2 separate regions of the Homo sapiens genome follow, and region 2 is linked to region 1. The links come from fine-mapping of genetic effects on gene expression. A gene starts in region 1. The other region holds a variant in brackets. All regions are shown on one strand. Distances are from middle to middle.

Region 1 (8,335 bases):
TACTACCGTTTTGAACAGACATTCCCAGATCATTCTTATATTGTCAGATAACACTTGTGTATAATATCACTTTGGATCATGGACATGAGCTGGAAAAATGATGTATTTTTGTAGATTGTATGTCCAGAATGACTTTAGAACCGCATGATACGGTGGAAGGAGCACTGGACTAGTCGTCACTACCCTTTTTGGATTCAGGGCTCCTCACAATTAAAATGAGTGTAATGAAACAAGGTGAAAATATAGAAGCATCCCTTTGTATACTGTTTTGCTACTTACAGTGTACTTGGCATTGCTTTATCTCACTGGATTCTCATGGTAGGATTTCTGAGATCTTAATCTAAGCTCCAAAGTTGTCTACTTTTTTGATCCTAGGGTGCTCCTTTTGTTTTACAGAGCAGGGTCACTTGATTTGCTAGCTGGTGGCAGAATTGGCACCATTACCCAGGTCTGACTGACCACCAGTCAGAGGCACTTTATTTGTATCATGAAATGATTTGAAATCATTGTAAAGCAGCGAAGTCTGATAATGAATGCCAGCTTTCCTTGTGCTTTGATAACAAAGACTCCAAATATTCTGGAGAACCTGGATAAAAGTTTGAAGGGCTAGATTGGGATTTGAAGACAAAATTGTAGGAAATCTTACATTTTTGCAATAACAAACATTAATGAAAGCAAAACATTATAAAAGTAATTTTAATTCACCACATACTTATCAATTTCTTGATGCTTCCAAATGACATCTACAGATATGGTTTTGTGGACATCTTTTTCTGTTTACATAAATTTATCCACTTAAAATGTGATAATGTGGAGACAAAGCAAGATTTGATTACATAAACTTTTCTCTGCATTGGTCTTTTCACTATCTTATTTGCTAACTTTTCTTATTTTTCTTCAACCTCCCCACCCTCCATTTTTTGGATATTAAACAGGGAAAGCTTGCTACATTATAAAGATTGTTGGCACCATTTATTTTACACAAAGGCTAAAGGTTAACTTTTGGAAATGATGAGCTACTTTTATATATGTGTTTACTCATGCTTTGTGATATTTCTGGATCATTCCAGTCATAAAGACTTATTACATGTACTATTTCTTGCTACCTGTGAAAAGGTATATTTTAAAGAATGTATAACCAACAGTCCATTTACTTTTTATTAGTATGTAGAGGATTTGTATCTAATTCATGAATGTAGTTTTACAGTAGTTTGTCATTGTAAATGGAGCAAAGTACATTATCTTCTAAAATGTACATTATGTAAGAATTGTAAATATACTTAAGTAATTTGTATGCCAAAAAATTACAATAAGTCAATAAAGATCTCACCTCTGGCTTAGTTCTTTCATGGTGATTTACATTTTCTTGTGAAATACACTGTGAACATATCTGTCAACAGCAGTTATTTTTAAGGTACTATTATTTTTAAGGTATTTCTTCCCAGCCCTTTCAAATCCACATTCATCCTATTTGCTGATTACTTCAATCAAGAAATCCATTTGGATCTTTTAAGTATATAATTCTCTTTGTTCACAGAGCTGTTATAGCCCCTAATTCATTGGCAAAAAGATAAAAGGTTTTTTTTGGGGGGTGGGGGGAGGGGCTTGCTCTAAGTTTTTTCCATTATGATTGACATTAATGTTCCTAATCTATGCAGCACATTCCCATTTTATCCTTTTAGTAAACAGACACACACACGTTTGTCAGTGAATTGGGACTGAAGGAATGGAAGGTTGAAAAAACCAAACTGGAAGTGTATCACCTGCATTTGCTTTAAAAAAAAAAAAGCTAATTGAAAGCAGACACATAAACTTTTCAATATAACTTGCTTTATTCAGCTTCATTTCATTTTCAGAATAGTTCTGTGGAGAACCCACATCAATAGTCTATAAATATTTTAAGTGAAAACAGTTTAATTTTTCAATTATTGCAAACACAAAGCTTTTTGCTTGTGGAGAAATGTTAAGAAGAAGCAAGAGAATCATCCACAATTCCATTATCTTGTGCTGTCCAAAATGGAACTCACTAGCTACATGTGGCTACTTAATTGGAATTAGACAAAGAGTTCATTTCCTCAGTCGTACTGCTACATTTTAAGAACTTTATAGCCCCATGTGGCTAGTGACTATTGTTTTGAACAGGGGAGATTGTAGAATATATACATTGTCACAGGAAGTTCTACTGGATAGCACTGAGGGAGATACTGTTACTTTTTTGTGTATACCCTTCTAGACCTTTGGGTGTGTGTATTCATACATTTATATAATGGGATCATACAGTTACCCACTTCTTTCACTTAATAGATGGGGAGAACTTTATGGGAAATTTCAAGCATGTACAGGTAGAGAAAATCAATAGCTATAAGCTCATGGCTTATATTTGTTCTCCTACCCATTTTTCCCCTTTCCTGGACTTTTTGGAACCAGATCCTAGACCTTTCACCAGCAAATCATTCCGTATGTACATCTAAAAGTTGAGGACTTTAAAAAATCGTAACACTTCTTAAACTGTAAAACTACATAATCAATATTCAAATTGGTTTCTCAAATACGATTTTTAAAATAGATCGTGCAAATCAGAATTCACATAAGTTCCATACGTTGCAGTTGGTGAATATGTTTCTTAGTCTCTGTAGGTTTTTTTTTCCATTTGTTACCATTACTATTTTTTTTTTGGAATTGGGGTCTCGCACTGTCATCCAGGCTGGAGTCCTGTGGCGATCGTAGCTCACTGCAGCCTTGGACCCCTGAGCTCAAGTGATCCTCCCACCTCAGTCTCCCACATAGCTTGGAGTACGGGTATGAGCCACCTCACCCATTTGTTAGTTTTTTAAATTTCCACCTGCAGTTTGTTGAAAACATCACTTTTAATGACTGCATTATTTTAGCTTTAACCACTTTATTGATGACCATTTGATTCTGATTTTTTGCCATCATGAACCTAGCTTTGCTTTATTTTTATGTTTGTTTTTTGAGACAGGGTCTCGCTCTCTTTCGCCAGGCTAGAGTACAGAGGCACAATCTCGGCTCACTGCATCCTCTGCCTCCTAGGTTCAAGCGATTCTCTTGCCTCAGCCTCTCGAGTAGCTGGAATTGCAGGTGTCCGCCACCACACTGCCTACTTTTTTTTTTTTTTTGAGACAGGGTTTTGCTCTTGTCGCCCAGGCTGGAGTGCAGTGTTATGATCTCGGCTCACTGCATCCTCTGCCTCCTAGGTTCAAGCGATTCTCTTGCCTCAGCCTCTCGAGTAGCTGGAATTGCAGGTGTCCGCCACCACACTGCCTACTTTTTTTTTTTTTTTGAGACAGAGTTTTGCTCTTGTCGCCCAGGCTGGAGTGCAGTGTTATGATCTCGGCTCACTGCAACCTCCACCTCCCAGGTTCAAGCGATTCTTCTGCCTCAGCCTCCTGAGTAGCTGGGATTACAGGCGCCCGCCACCATGTCTGGCTAATTTTTTGTATTTTTAGTAGAGACGGGGTTTCGCCATGTTGGGCAGGCTGGTCTCGAACTCCTGGCCTAAGGTGATCTGCCCTCCTCGGCCTCCCAAAGTGCTAGGATTACAGGCGTGAGCCACCATTCCCGGCCTAAGCCACCATGCTTGGCCTTGCTTTATTCTTATGGTTAAATATTTTGAACATTCTTAAATTATTAGGAAGATTTTCTAGAAATAAAAATGCTGTTTCAATGGTTGAGTATATTTTTGAGACTCATCCAATGTGGTAGGCACCGTGTTAGGTACTGGGTATATTGTGGTTAATAAAAAACAAATGTATATTCTGTTCTCTTGGAGTCACGTGTTCTTGCAATGAAGAAAGATGAGACTAGGGTAGTACATATATTTAGGTGGCCCTCACAGAATTATTGAGGATGGCACTTAGCCCAGACACTGGATAGGAGGTATTTAGAGATCATTTGTGTAGGTAGTGACATGTAAGCCAAGGTCTGAAGCAGAGAGGTTGGATAATCCATGCAACCTTACAATGTGGAAATAACAGGAAAAACCGTTTACCTAATCTCTGGTCAGAAATCAGAGAACTTGGCCAAAGAACTGAAGGGTTACTGTACTTACTCAAGTTCTTTGTCTATTTAGACAGCATGCACAGCACTTGCACGTGTTTACTTAAAAACTACTGGTATAGCCTCAATTCTTAGAAGACTGAAGTTAGTACGTTTTTATCTAGTTAGCAGTGTGCAACTGCCTAGGGTCAAAATTGCTACTGGCTAGCTGTGTGACTTTGGGCACGTGACCTCGGCGTGCAAAACTCCCTGGTACCCTCAAGGAGGCTCTTGATAAAGTGTTAAAAGTCTGTTTATAAAACAAAAGTGGATGAATGTCGCCCTCCAGGGCTTTGCGGTGCTGGGGCTCGGGGAGCAGCCTCGCAGGTTCGTGCGGGCGGCGGGGGCCCCCTGCTGGCCACATCCTCCAGCCTCCCTCCGCTCGGCCTCCGGCGCGACGTGCGGCCCGGGCCATTTCCTCCCAGGGCGGGGGAAAAGGGAGGAGCTGCCGGTTTAAATTGCCTAGCTGCAGCTCGTGTGCAGGGAGAGGCCGAGACGGCTTAAAGCCTCCAAGAAATTGAGGGAAAAAAGGTGCAGAGATTAAAGTTTTACCTCTTGGTGCCTCCAGCTTCGCTTTTGGCTAACCTAAGTTCCTCTGTTCGGGCGCCTCCATTCCCTTCAACACTCAGCTTGGATATCCTCTGGGGCTCGCCGCGTAGGGCGCCATTTCTCAGCCGGGACAGCGGGCCAGCCCTCAGCACGCTGGAGTCCGGAATCCCCCCCTCCCAACGCCGGGCGCCGGATCCCACCCTAACCCCTCCTCTAATACCCTTGGAACCTAGGACCCAGCGGTTTCGGCACGCCCGGCCCCGCCCCTCCGCGCACCGGCGCCCGCGATTGGCTCCAGGCGGCGCGGCCCCGCCCCTTTCATGGCCGCCGCCTGGCGCCGGGGCTAAGTGGCCGCCGGCGTCCGGGTACCCGAGGGCTCTCCCGCGTTGCTGGCACCGCTGGCGCCGCGGTCTCGTAGCGCATGGGCCTCCTCCGAGGCGGGCTCCCATGCGCTCGGGCCATGGCGCGCCTGGGCGCTGTGCGCTCCCACTACTGCGCCCTGCTGCTGGCCGCGGCGCTGGCCGTCTGCGCCTTCTACTACCTCGGCTCAGGCCGGGAGACCTTCTCCAGCGCCACCAAGAGGCTGAAGGAGGCCCGCGCCGGGGCTCCCGCCGCGCCCTCGCCGCCCGCGCTGGAGCTAGCGCGGGGCTCCGTGGCGCCAGCCCCCGGCGCGAAGGCCAAGAGCTTGGAGGGCGGCGGTGCCGGGCCGGTGGACTACCACCTGCTGATGATGTTCACCAAGGCGGAGCACAATGCCGCGCTGCAGGCCAAGGCCCGCGTCGCGCTGCGCTCACTGCTGCGCCTCGCCAAGTTCGAGGCGCACGAGGTGCTTAACCTTCACTTCGTGAGCGAGGAGGCCAGCCGCGAGGTGGCCAAGGGCCTGCTGCGGGAGCTCCTGCCGCCCGCCGCTGGCTTCAAGTGCAAGGTGAGCGGGCCGCGGCTGGGGGCTCCCGGTGGGTGGCCCACCCCATCCTAGGCGAGGTCAGTTTGCGCTCCCGGAGGGGATCCGGGGAACTAGCGGGTAGGATCTTCCCTGAGCTGCCCGCTTGCAATGTAGTGTTCACAACCTGCGGGAGGGCTCGTTCGGGGGCGTGTCCGGGAGCCAGACGCCCTCAGCTGGTGCTGAGGAGTGGAGCTGCGTTTTTAATGACCGCCTCGTTTTCCTCTCCCCCAGTTAAGCGCAGCCCCCAGGAGAGTCCGCGCGCCCCCATTTTGCTAACGTTGCAGGGTTCAGCACTGCCTTCAGAGTCTGCACCTCTGTTTATGTTCCTCAGTTTTTGACTTCTGAGGATGGGACTGGTCACCAGTAGTCATCCTGAGCAACTGGAGAGGGCCTTGGTGAGGCCTCTGGAAGTGTTGAAGTTGCAGTGACACTTCTCATTGCTCTTAAGGTATTTCAGTAGGATCTGGTCAAACTCATTGTGAACCATCTTATCTCCTCTCTGTGTCCCTTTTTCCCCTTCCTCCAAGGGTCATGAACCCATTTAGAGAAGCCTGGAGTTCCTCCGAATGAGGAAGAGAAAGCTCAAGAGGAACAGATATGATCTGGGGAGAGCACAGCTGGCCGCCTTGTCCCAGGCTGGACCAGTCTGCCTCCATGACAGCTTCCATCTCTGTTTATCATCTGTCTTCACTGCCTGGCTCTCCTTGTCTGAGATGTGTTTCTGACATAGTGTGAATTGCCTAGGTCAAATTGCTTATTTGATTTTGACCTAATAGTTGTACAGAGGGGATCCGAGGCCAGATTTTAAGGAGTAGTAGGTAATATTAAAGGGTGGAGACTGATGTTGGTTGGGGAAGCATGCTGAGACAGGAGTTGTATTATGTGAGTGACTAGGGGAGCTGTTGCCAGGATCCTACAGGCTTCGGGAGTCTCTGATAGCTCCTTGTTGCCTACGGGGTGAAGTCCCAGTTTATTGGTAGGGCTGTTGTGTTGTGAGCCTGGTCCACTTCTCTGGCTTCACCTCTCCTCCTTTGTCTACATGCACCTCATACCTTAGCTATGTAGGGAGTGGGCCTTATACATGCTGTACTGTCTGCCCACAGTGTCCTCTTGGGCCCTTGGCCATTCTTTACTCAGCTTTCACCTCTCCTGAGAAAGTCCCTAGACCCTGGGACCTCTGAAGGTCCTCGCTGGAGGAGGAGCCTGGCAACCTGTCCCAGGTGATCCTAATGACCCTAATATTTGAGAAACTTTGCACTAGTTCACGGTAGAAAACTGAGGGCCCTTGGCCATAGGGTCAGTCTGGGCAGATCTTGGGATTTGACCAGGTCTCCAAACACCGCCTTGAAGATAGCATTGTCATCTCTTCTGGGCCTACTCTGCACCGTTGCCGGATCTCTGTCCCCTTGTCCCCAGCTCCCGCTGCAGCGCTAGCTGCACAGCCAGTGCTTTCCAGCCTACTTGCCTTTGCTTTTGTCATTCCCACTGTTGGGGTGCTCCTTCTCTCCATCTCCAAGTCTTGCCCATCTTCAGATACCATCCCCTCCTTGGAGCCAAGGAAGCGTCCCTTCTTTCCTTTTCTACTTCCCTGGTGCTGTGACTGTATCATGTCTTATCATCCATCCCTATGTACAATGCCTGGCACTCTTAGTTGGCACCAGAAATATTGGCCCAGGGGTAGATCCAGCCTCAGGGCCGAGCCCCTCCTGTCTTGGAGTAAGTGTTTCATGCTCGGACTACCCCACTTTACTGGGCCCAGTTCTGGCAGCCTCACTCAAGGCCTGGAGGCAGCTGCAAATGACCAGAGGGAACTGATACCTCCTCTGTTGAGGGGTGAGGGTTTAGTGTCTGGGGACTTCTAGCCAGATGTCAGTGATTGGATAAGGGGTTATCAGTCCTGGCATAAAATTGCTCCCGTTACTTCTTTTTTTTTTTTGTGAGATGGAGTTTCGCTCTTGTTGCCTAGGCTGGAGTGCAGTGGCACGATCTCAGCTCACTGCAACCTCTGCCTCCTGGGTTCGAGCGATTCTGCCTCAGCCTCTCGAGTAGCTGGAATTACAGGTGCCCACCACCACGCTGGCTAAATTTTTTGTTTTTTTTTTTTTGAGACAGAGTTTTGCTCTTGTCGCCCAGGCTGGAGTGCAACAGTGTGATCTCGGCTCACTGCAACCTCTGCCTCCAAGGTTCAAGTGATTCTCCTGGCCCAGCCTCCTGAGTAGCTGGGATTACAGGCGCCCGCCACCACGCCCGGCTAATTTTTTGTATTTTTAGTAGAGATGGGGTTTCATCATGTTGGCCAGGCTGGTCTCAAATTCCTGACCTCAGGTGATCCACCCACCTTGGCCTCTCAAAGTGCTGGAATTACAGGCGTGAACCACCGCGCCTGGCCTCCGTTACTTTGTTTTGTTTTGTTTTTGATAAGAATTCTTGCTATGTTGCCCAGGCTGGTCTTGAACTCCTGAGCTCAAGCAATTCTCTTGCCTTAGCCTCCTGCATAGCTGGGATTACAGGCACACACCACTGCACCTGGCATTCCCATGATTTTTGAGTTCATATTTTGTAAATTTTTCTGTTTGTGATGAAAAGTGCTCTTTTTTTCCTTTAAATGTGCGATTCTAAAAGGTTTGCTTCATTTTACTTGTGATTTAATTCTTCCTCAGGTTTGGAATATTCCTGAAAAGAACATATGTCACATGCCTTTCCTCTGTCTGGAGTTCTCCCTGCCTCCATCCTTGGTACTCAGCTTTCAGGTCTCGGCTTTGGTGTTCTTTCCTTGGTAAACCTTTC
Region 2 (8,335 bases), 180 kb after region 1:
TGGTATCTCACTGTGGTTTTGATTTGCATTTCTCTGATGGCCAGTGATGATGAGCATTTTTTCATGTGGTTTTTGGCTGCATAAATGTCTTCTTTTGAGAAGTATCTGTTCATGTCCTTCGCCCACTTTTTGATGGGGTTGTTTGTTTTTTTCTTGTAAATTTGTTTGAGTTCATTGTAGATTCTGGATATTAGCCCTCTGTCGGATGAGTTGGTTGCGAAAATTTTCTCCCATTCTGTAGGTTGCCTGTTCACTCTGATGGTAGTTTCTTTTGCTGTGCAGAAGCTCTTTAGTTTAATTAGATCCCATTTGTCAATTTTGTCTTTTGTTGCCATTGCTTTTGGTGTTTTAGACATGAAGTCCTTGCCCATGCCTATGTCCTGAATGGTAATGCCTAGGTTTTCTTCTAGGGTTTTTATGGTTTTAGGTCTAACGTTTAAGTCTTTAATCCATCTTGAATTGATTTTTGTATAAGGTGTAAGGAAGGGATCCAGTTTCAGCTTTCTACATATGGCTAGCCAGTTTTCCCAGCACCATTTATTAAATAGGGAATCCGTTCCCCATTACTTGTTTTTGTCAGGTTTGTCAAAGATCAGATAGTTGTAGACATGCGGCGTTATTTCTGAGGGCTCTGTTCTGTTCCGTTGGCCTATATCTCTGTTTTGGTACCAGTACCATGCTGTTTTGGTTACTGTAGCCTTGTAATATAGTTTGAAGTCAGGTAGTGTGATGCCTCCAGCTTTGTTCTTTTGGCTTAGGATTGACTTGGCGATGCGGGCTCTTTTTTGGTTCCAGATGAACTTTAAAGTAGTTTTTTCCAATTCTGTGAAGAAAGTCATTGGTAGCTTGATGGGGATGGCATTGAATCTGTAAATTACCTTGGGCAGTATGGCCATTTTCACGATATTGATTCTTCCTACCCATGAGCATGGCATGTTCTTCCATTTGTTTGTATCCTCTTTTATTTCCTTGAGCAGAGGTTTGTAGTTCTCCTTGAAGAGGTCCTTCACATCCCTTGTAAGTTGGATTCCTAGGTATTTTATTCTCTTTGAAGCAATTGTGAATGGGAGTTCACTCATGATTTGGCTCTCTGTTTGTCTGTTGTTGGTGTATAAGAATGCTTGTGATTTTTGTACATTGATTTTGTATCCTGAGACTTTGCTGAAGTTGCTTATCAGCTTAAGGAGATTTTGGGCTGAGACAATGGGGTTTTCTAGATATACAATCATGTCGTCTGCAAACAGGGACAATTTGACTTCCTCTTTTCCTAATTGAATACCCTTTATTTCCTTCTCCTGCCTAATTGCCCTGGCCAGAACTTCCAACACTATGTTGAATAGGAGTGGTGAGAGAGGGCATCCCTGTCTTGTGCCAGTTTTCAAAGGGAATGCTTCCAGTTTTTGCCCATTCAGTATGATATTGGCTGTGGGTTTGTCATAGATAGCTCTTATTATTTTGAAATACATCCCATCAATACCTAATTTATTGAGAGTTTTTAGCATGAAGGGTTGTTGAATTTTGTCAAAGGCTTTTTCTGCATCTATTGAGATAATCATGTGGTTTTTGTCTTTGGCTCTGTTTACCTGCTGGATTACATTTATTGATTTGCGTATATTGAACCAGCCTTGCATCCCAGGGATGAAGCCCACTTGATCATGGTGAATAAGCTTTTTGATGTGCTGCTGGATTCGTTTTGCCAGTATTTTATTGAGGATTTTTGCATCAATGTTCATCAAGGATATTGGTCTAAAATTCTCTTTTTTTGTTGTGTCTCTGCCTGGCTTTGGTATCAGAATGATGCTGGCCTCATAAAATGAGTTAGGGAGGATTCCCTCTTTTTCTATTGATTGAAATAGTTTCAGAAGGAATGGTACCAGTTCCTCCTTGTACCTCTGGTAGAATTCGGCTGTGAATCCATCTGGTGCTGGACTCTTTTTGATTGGTAAGCTATTGATTATTGCCACAATTTCAGCTCCTGTTATTGGTCTATTCAGAGATTCAACTTCTTCCTGGTTTAGTCTTGGGAGAGTGTATACGTCGAGGAATTTATCCATTTCTTCTAGGTTTTCTAGTTTATTTGTGTAGAGGTGTTTGTAGTATTCTCTGATGGTAGTTTGTATTTCTGTGAGATCGGTGGTGATATCCCCTTTATCATTTTTTATTGCGTCTATTTGATTCTTCTCTCTTTTTTTCTTTATTAGTCTTGCTAGTGGTCTATCAATTTTGTTGATCCTTTCAAAAAACCAGCTCCTGGATTCATTAATTTTTTGAAGGGTTTTTTGTGTCTCTATTTCCTTCAGTTCTGCTCTGATTTTAGTTATTTCTTGCCTTCTGCTAGCTTTTGAATGTGTTTGCTCTTGCTTTTCTAGTTCTTTTAATTGTGATGTTAGGGTGTCAATTTTGGATCTTTCCTGCTTTCTCTTGTGGCATTTAGTGCTATAAATGTCCCTCTACACACTGCTTTGAATGCGTCCCAGAGATTCTGGTATGTTGTGTCTTTGTTCTTGTTGGTTTCAAAGAACATCTTTATTTCTGCCTTCATTTCGTTATGTACCCAGTAGTCATTCAGGAGCAGGTTGTTCAGTTTCCGTGTAGTTGAGTGGTTTTGAGTGAGATTCTTAATCCTGAGTTCTAGTTTGATTGCACTGTGGTCTGAGAGATAGTTTGTTATAATTTCTGTTCTTTTACATTTGCTGAGGAGAGCTTTACTTCCAAGTATGTGGTCAATTTTGGAGTAGGTGTGGTGTGGTGCTGAAAAAAATGTATATTCTGTTGATTTGGGGTGGAGAGTTCTGTAGATGTCTATTAGGTCCGCTTGGTGCAGAGCTGAGTTCAATTCCTGGGTATCCTTGTTGACTTTCTGTCTCCTTGATCTGTCTAATGTTGACAGTGGGGTGTTAAAGTCTCCCATTATTAATGTGTGGGAGTCTAAGTCTCTTTGTAGGTCACTCAGGACTTGCTTTATGAATCTTGGTGCTCCTGTATTGGGTGCATATATATTTAGGATAGTTAGCTCTTCTTGTTGAATTGATCCCTTTACCATTATGTAATGGCCTTCTTTGTCTCTTTTTATCTTTGTTGCTTTAAAGTCTGTTTCATCAGAGACTAGGATTGCAACCCCTGCCTTTTTTTGTTTTCCATTGGCTTGGTAGATCTTCCTCCATCCTTTTATTTTGAGCCTATGTGTGTCTCTGCATGTGAGATGGGTTTCCTGAATACAGCACACTGATGGGTCTTGACTCTTTATCCAATTTGCCAGTCTGTGTCTTTTAATTGGAGCATTTAGTCCATTTACATTTAAAGTTAATATTGTTATGTGTGAATTTGATCCTGTCATTATGATGCTAGCTGGTTATTGTGCTCGTTAGTTGATGCAGTTTCTTCCTAGTCTCGATGGTCTTTACATTTTGGCATGATTTTGCAGCGGCTGGTACCGGTTGTTCCCTTCCATGTTTAGCGCTTCCTTCAGGAGCTCTTTTAGGGCAGGCCTGGTGGTGACAAAATCTCTCAGCATTTGTTTGTCTGTAAAGTATTTTATTTCTCCTTCACTTATGAAGCTTAGTTTGGCTGGATATGAAATTCTGCGTTGAAAATCCTTTTCTTTAAGAATGTTGAATATTGGCCCCCACTCTCTTCTGGCTTGTAGGGTTTCTGCCGAGAGATCCACTGTTAGTCTGATGGGCTTCCCTTTGTGGGTAACCCGACCTTTCTCTCTGGCTGCCCTTAACATTTTTTCCTTCATTTCAACTTTGGTAAATCTGACAATTATGTGTCTTGGAGTTGCTCTTCTCGAGGAGTATCTTTGTGGCGTTCTCTGTATTTCCTGAATCTGAACGTTGGCCTGCCTTGCTAGATTGGGGAAGTTCTCCTGGATAATATCCTGCAGAGTGTTTTCCAACTTGGTTCCATTCTCCCCATCACTTTCAGGTACACCAATCAGACGTAGATTTGGTCTTTTCACATAGTCCCATATTTCCTGGAGGCTTTGCTCATTTCTTTTTATTGTTTTTTCTCTAAACTTCCCTTCTTGCTTCATTTCATTCATTTCATCTTCCATTGCTGATACCCTTTCTTCCAGTTGATTGCATCGGCTCCTGAGGCTTCTGCATTCTTCACGTAGTTCTCGAGCCTTGGTTTTCAGCTCCATCAGCTCCTTTAAGCACTTCTCTGTATTGGTTATTCTAGTTATATATTCTTCTAAATTTTTTTCAAAGTTTTCAACTTCTTTGCCTTTGGTTTGAATGTCCTCCCGTAGCTCAGAGTAATTTGATCGTCTGAAGCCTTCTTCTCTCAGCTCGTCAAAGTCATTCTCCATCCAGCTTTGTTCTGTTGCTGGTGAGGAACTGCGTTCCTTTGGAGGAGGAGAGGTGCTCTGCTTTTTAGAGTTTCCAGTTTTTCTGTTCTGTTTTTTCCCCATCTTTGTGGTTTTATCTACTTTTGGTCTTTGATGATGGTGATGTACAGATGGGTTTTTGGTGTGGATGTCCTTTCTGTTTGTTAGTTTTCCTTCTAACAGACAGGACCCTCAGCTGCAGGTCTGTTGGAGTACCCGGCCCTGTGAGGTGCCCCGCTGGGGGGTGCCTCCCAGTTAGGCTGCTCGGGGGTCAGGGGTCAGGGACCCACTTGAGGAGGCAGTCTGCCCGTTCTCAGATCTCCAGCTGCGTGCTGGGAGAACCACTGCTCTCTTCAAAGCTGTCAGACAGGGACCTTTAAGTCTGCAGAGGTTACTGCTGTCTTTTTGTTTGTCTGTGCCCTGCCCCCAGAGGTGGAGCCTACAGAGGCAGGCAGGCCTCCTTGAGCTGTGGTGGGCTCCACCCAGTTCGAGCTTCCCGGCTGCTTTGTTTACCTAATCAAGCCTGGGCAATGGCGGGCGCCCCTCCCCCAGCCTCGCTGCCACCTTGCAGTTTGATCTCAGACCGCTGTGCTGGCAATCAGCGAGACTCCGTGGGGTAGGACCCTCCGAGCCAGGTGCGGGATGTAATCTCGTGGTGCGCCGTTTTTTAAGCCCGTTGGAAAAGCGCAGTATTCAGGTGGGAGTGACCCGATTTTCCAGGTGCGTCTGTCACCCCTTTCTTTGACTCCCTTTGAAAGGGAACTCCCTGACCCCTTGCGCTTCCCAAGTGAGGCTTTGCCTC[G/T]CCCTGCTTCGGCTCGCGCACGGTGCGCGCACCCACTGACCTGCGCCCACTGTCTGGCACTCCCTAGTGAGATGAACCCGGTACCTCAGATGGAAATGCAGAAATCACCGTCTTCTGCGTCGCTCACGCTGGGAGCTGTACACCAGAGCTGTTCCTATTCGGCCATCTTGGCTCCTCCAGTAGCATCTAATTTTAATGCCCGCTTTGATCTGGCTGTTAAAAATTCCACTCTTTATGTTCATTCAAATTCCAGTTGGCTGTTCTGGGTAAGCCCAGGCCCCAGTGCCCTATCCGGAGAGAGCTGAGAAGTTGCAGGCCCTGCGTGCAGGGAGCCTGACTGCCTTGTCTCTGTGCTCTACCAGCTCCAGGCATACCTGTGTTGATACCTGAATAGAGCGCGCAGTGGGGAGAGACAGGGAGGGTAGCTCAGATGCTTTTCTGCTTTCACAGGGAGCACCCCAAGCACAGCAGATTTTCAAGAGATTTATCTGGAAGGCCTGGAGAAGCAACTCAAGCACAAGGGATCTGAGGAGGAGCCAGGGAGCACATTTCCAGTTTAAAGGGGAAAAATGTCTCCCTGGAGAGTGGGTACAAACGGGAAGAGGGCGGAAGAGGAGCTCCAGGGCCACACGCAGCCTGGCAAGGGCAAGGCCGGCTGTGTCCAGAGGAGCAGGAAAGGCGGGTTTGCTGCAGGCCACCTGGAGAGACGGTGGCGTGTCAACGGGCCACACGGGCAGTGCCTCCCAGCCCCCTTACTGCTCCCCGCAGCCTGCCCTGAGTTTAGAGAAGCTGCACCGAGGCAGGAGGAGGTGACCACAGTGCTGCCACCAAGGCGACCTGGAGCTGGGAAGGCCTAGGAGGCCACTCTCCCTCCTTGTGGTACAGGTGGGAGGTATCGGGGAGGGGCCTGGCCAGTGTCATCATGCAAGTCACTGATCATGATTAGAACAGCCACTGCCACTGACCCCATAGCCAGAATGCTCAAGACAGAAGCCAGGACCCGGAGCTCTTTGTCCCCCTTCATCACCTACATGCATCCGTTCTTAGAGCTAGTCATACACCTGCTAAGTATCTCCTAAACCCTTTGCTTGTCTCCATCCTTGGCACTGCCACCCTCCCCCCCATCACCAAAGCATCCTCCTGCCTGGTCTTGCTGCTTCCAGCCCTTCCTCCTCCATGCCAGTGCCCACCCAGCCAGAGTGACCTTCCTCATACCTCGCTTCAAACCTTTTGTTCCCTTTAGCAGCAAGGTCAGCTTCCCTGACCTTCCTCACAGGGCCCATCCTAAACTGGCCCTGGCTCATAGTCAGGCCTCTGACCCCACAGCCCCTGCCCCTAACCACTGTGTTTGTTGAATACAACTGGATAGACTTCTCCCCTACAGGTCTGTGGTCTCTGCTGAAATGCATTCACATGCATGGAGACAGGGAAACAGCCTCTGTTCCAGGGAAGCAGGGGTAGGGGAGCGGCCGAGACGCCAGACCTGGCTACCTTTGATAAGTTGTTTATTTTCTGAAGCAGACAGTTCTGATAAAGCCGTCGTAATGATGCTCCTTGATCCAACCTAGCACGATAGGAATCTGAGCTGGCCTGTCAGAAGGACAGATTGTTTTGTGGATTTTCTTCCCTTAAAAAAAAAGAAAAATTTAAAAGCAAGGACAGTGCTGTAGAGTGCTGAGCTGTAAGGCTTCGAGGCACACAGCGCGGCCAGCTGTGGGGCAGGCTGGGGGCAAGCTGGGTGTTTGGGGGTGCTGGAAACCAGGTCTGTTTTGCCCAGGTGTGCTCTGTGTGTACAAATGGCCTTTAATGCAGCTGCCCCTGTCCACAGGCCCCAGGCAGTCCTTGAAAGAGAAGCTTGAAAAGTCAAGTTTGGGTCTTCTGCAGCTCGGGCACCACCGAGTCATAGTGAGTGTTGGCCTCCGCAAGGCCTGACAGCACAGAGGACAGAGGTGAGTGGGGGCAGCTGCCTCAGGGGCTAGCCTCGGGGTGGGGGAGGAGGCTAGCCCAGCAAGCTTTTGAGGCACCTCTTTCCTGTGTTGGGTATGAGGTGAGTGCTCAGAGCAGTGGCTCTGTCACCACAGTCGAAGGACAGTGAGGCTAGTGGCGACCTGACGGTTTTGAACCAAACTCTGGGCCAGCCCCTGGTGGAATGGAGTGGTCTCGCCGCATCAGTCTGGAACTCTACTAGGATTGTCACCAGACACGGTTGTGGCTCGCGGCTGCCCACCGCGGCCCGCAGGATGACTGGGCTCTTGGAGCTGTGAGGGAGCACAGGAGCTAAGCTCCTGCTCCTTTCTCTCTGACCGCACTGCTGTGCTTCTCGAGTAGAACTGGGTGGACTCCCCCCTCCCACCGCGGTCTCTGGTGAAATGCGCTGGCATGCTTAGACATGGGGATGGAGGCTCCATTCTAGGGAACCAGGGATGGGAGAGTGGCAGAGATGCCAGACCTGGACACCTTGGGTGAGTTGCGTATTTTCTGAACCAGCTTGGAGCCGGAGCGGCAGGGCCAGGGGTGGGGACCAGGACTGTGACACTGGTACTGAGTCACCATTCCCAAGAGGTTTGGAGAGGTCGGAAGGGGTGTTGAGCCAAAGGGCAAATCCAGATATTCTCTCTCCAAAGCCCGTGCTCCTCTGAACTGTTCTCCAGGGACCTCACTCAGCCCCTTTTGTCCCCAACTTGAACTTTCATATGGCAATCATTTCTTTTCCTACTTGACCTCGTGCAAGGAGAGGATTTAGAGCACTGTAACTCCCATGGGGGTCATCCTTGCTTGGGAGAAGGTTACGTCCACGTGAAGACTCTGCGGCTGCTCAGATGAACCACACACTCTGGAGGTTTTTGGCATTTCGAGGGTCTGGAAGTGGCTGCCTTGCTAGGCCTCCCTTTCCTACCCTCAGCTTCTGCAACTGGCAGGAGCTGCTGTCTTGGGCACCATTAGAGAAGCTCCCCTGCCAAGAGCCAAGGTGTACTGTCCCCAGCATGGAGAATGGTCCTGCCATCAGAGTGGGCTCTCCAGGATGAGGGTGTCTGTGTGATTCACTGTGCTCTTCACATCCTGGACCCTGAAGCCTAATTGAATGAATGAATCCCTGGGGTTGGGTTTCTGGGGCCGATGGAGTCCTGTGATCGTGTGTAGTGGTGGGAGTTTTGCCTAGAACATCCTTGGGTGGTTTAACTCACTAAAATACAGCAAGT

Evidence for each region.
Region 2: its variant is fine-mapped to the expression of XXYLT1 in whole blood (TOPMed, PIP above 0.99).

Annotation. Positions count from the first base shown.
Region 1 is chr3:195,267,750-195,276,084 of GRCh38, reverse strand. XXYLT1 (xyloside xylosyltransferase 1) reads left to right here and starts at 4,926. Exons shown (of 4, transcript NM_152531.5): 1 at 4,926-5,530. The coding sequence starts at 5,027. It overlaps ACAP2 (ArfGAP with coiled-coil, ankyrin repeat and PH domains 2), which reads left to right. Exons shown (of 23, transcript NM_012287.6): 23 at 1-1,340. RefSeq lists silencers at 4,296-4,525, 4,776-5,305, 5,466-5,645 and an enhancer at 4,896-5,687.
Region 2 is chr3:195,084,651-195,092,985 of GRCh38, reverse strand. The region is part of intron 3 of XXYLT1 (xyloside xylosyltransferase 1); the gene reads left to right. Among named protein-coding and RNA genes, the nearest start is that of XXYLT1-AS1, 5.8 kb to the left of the region's middle. The variant G/T (reference allele first, on the strand shown) is at 5,136.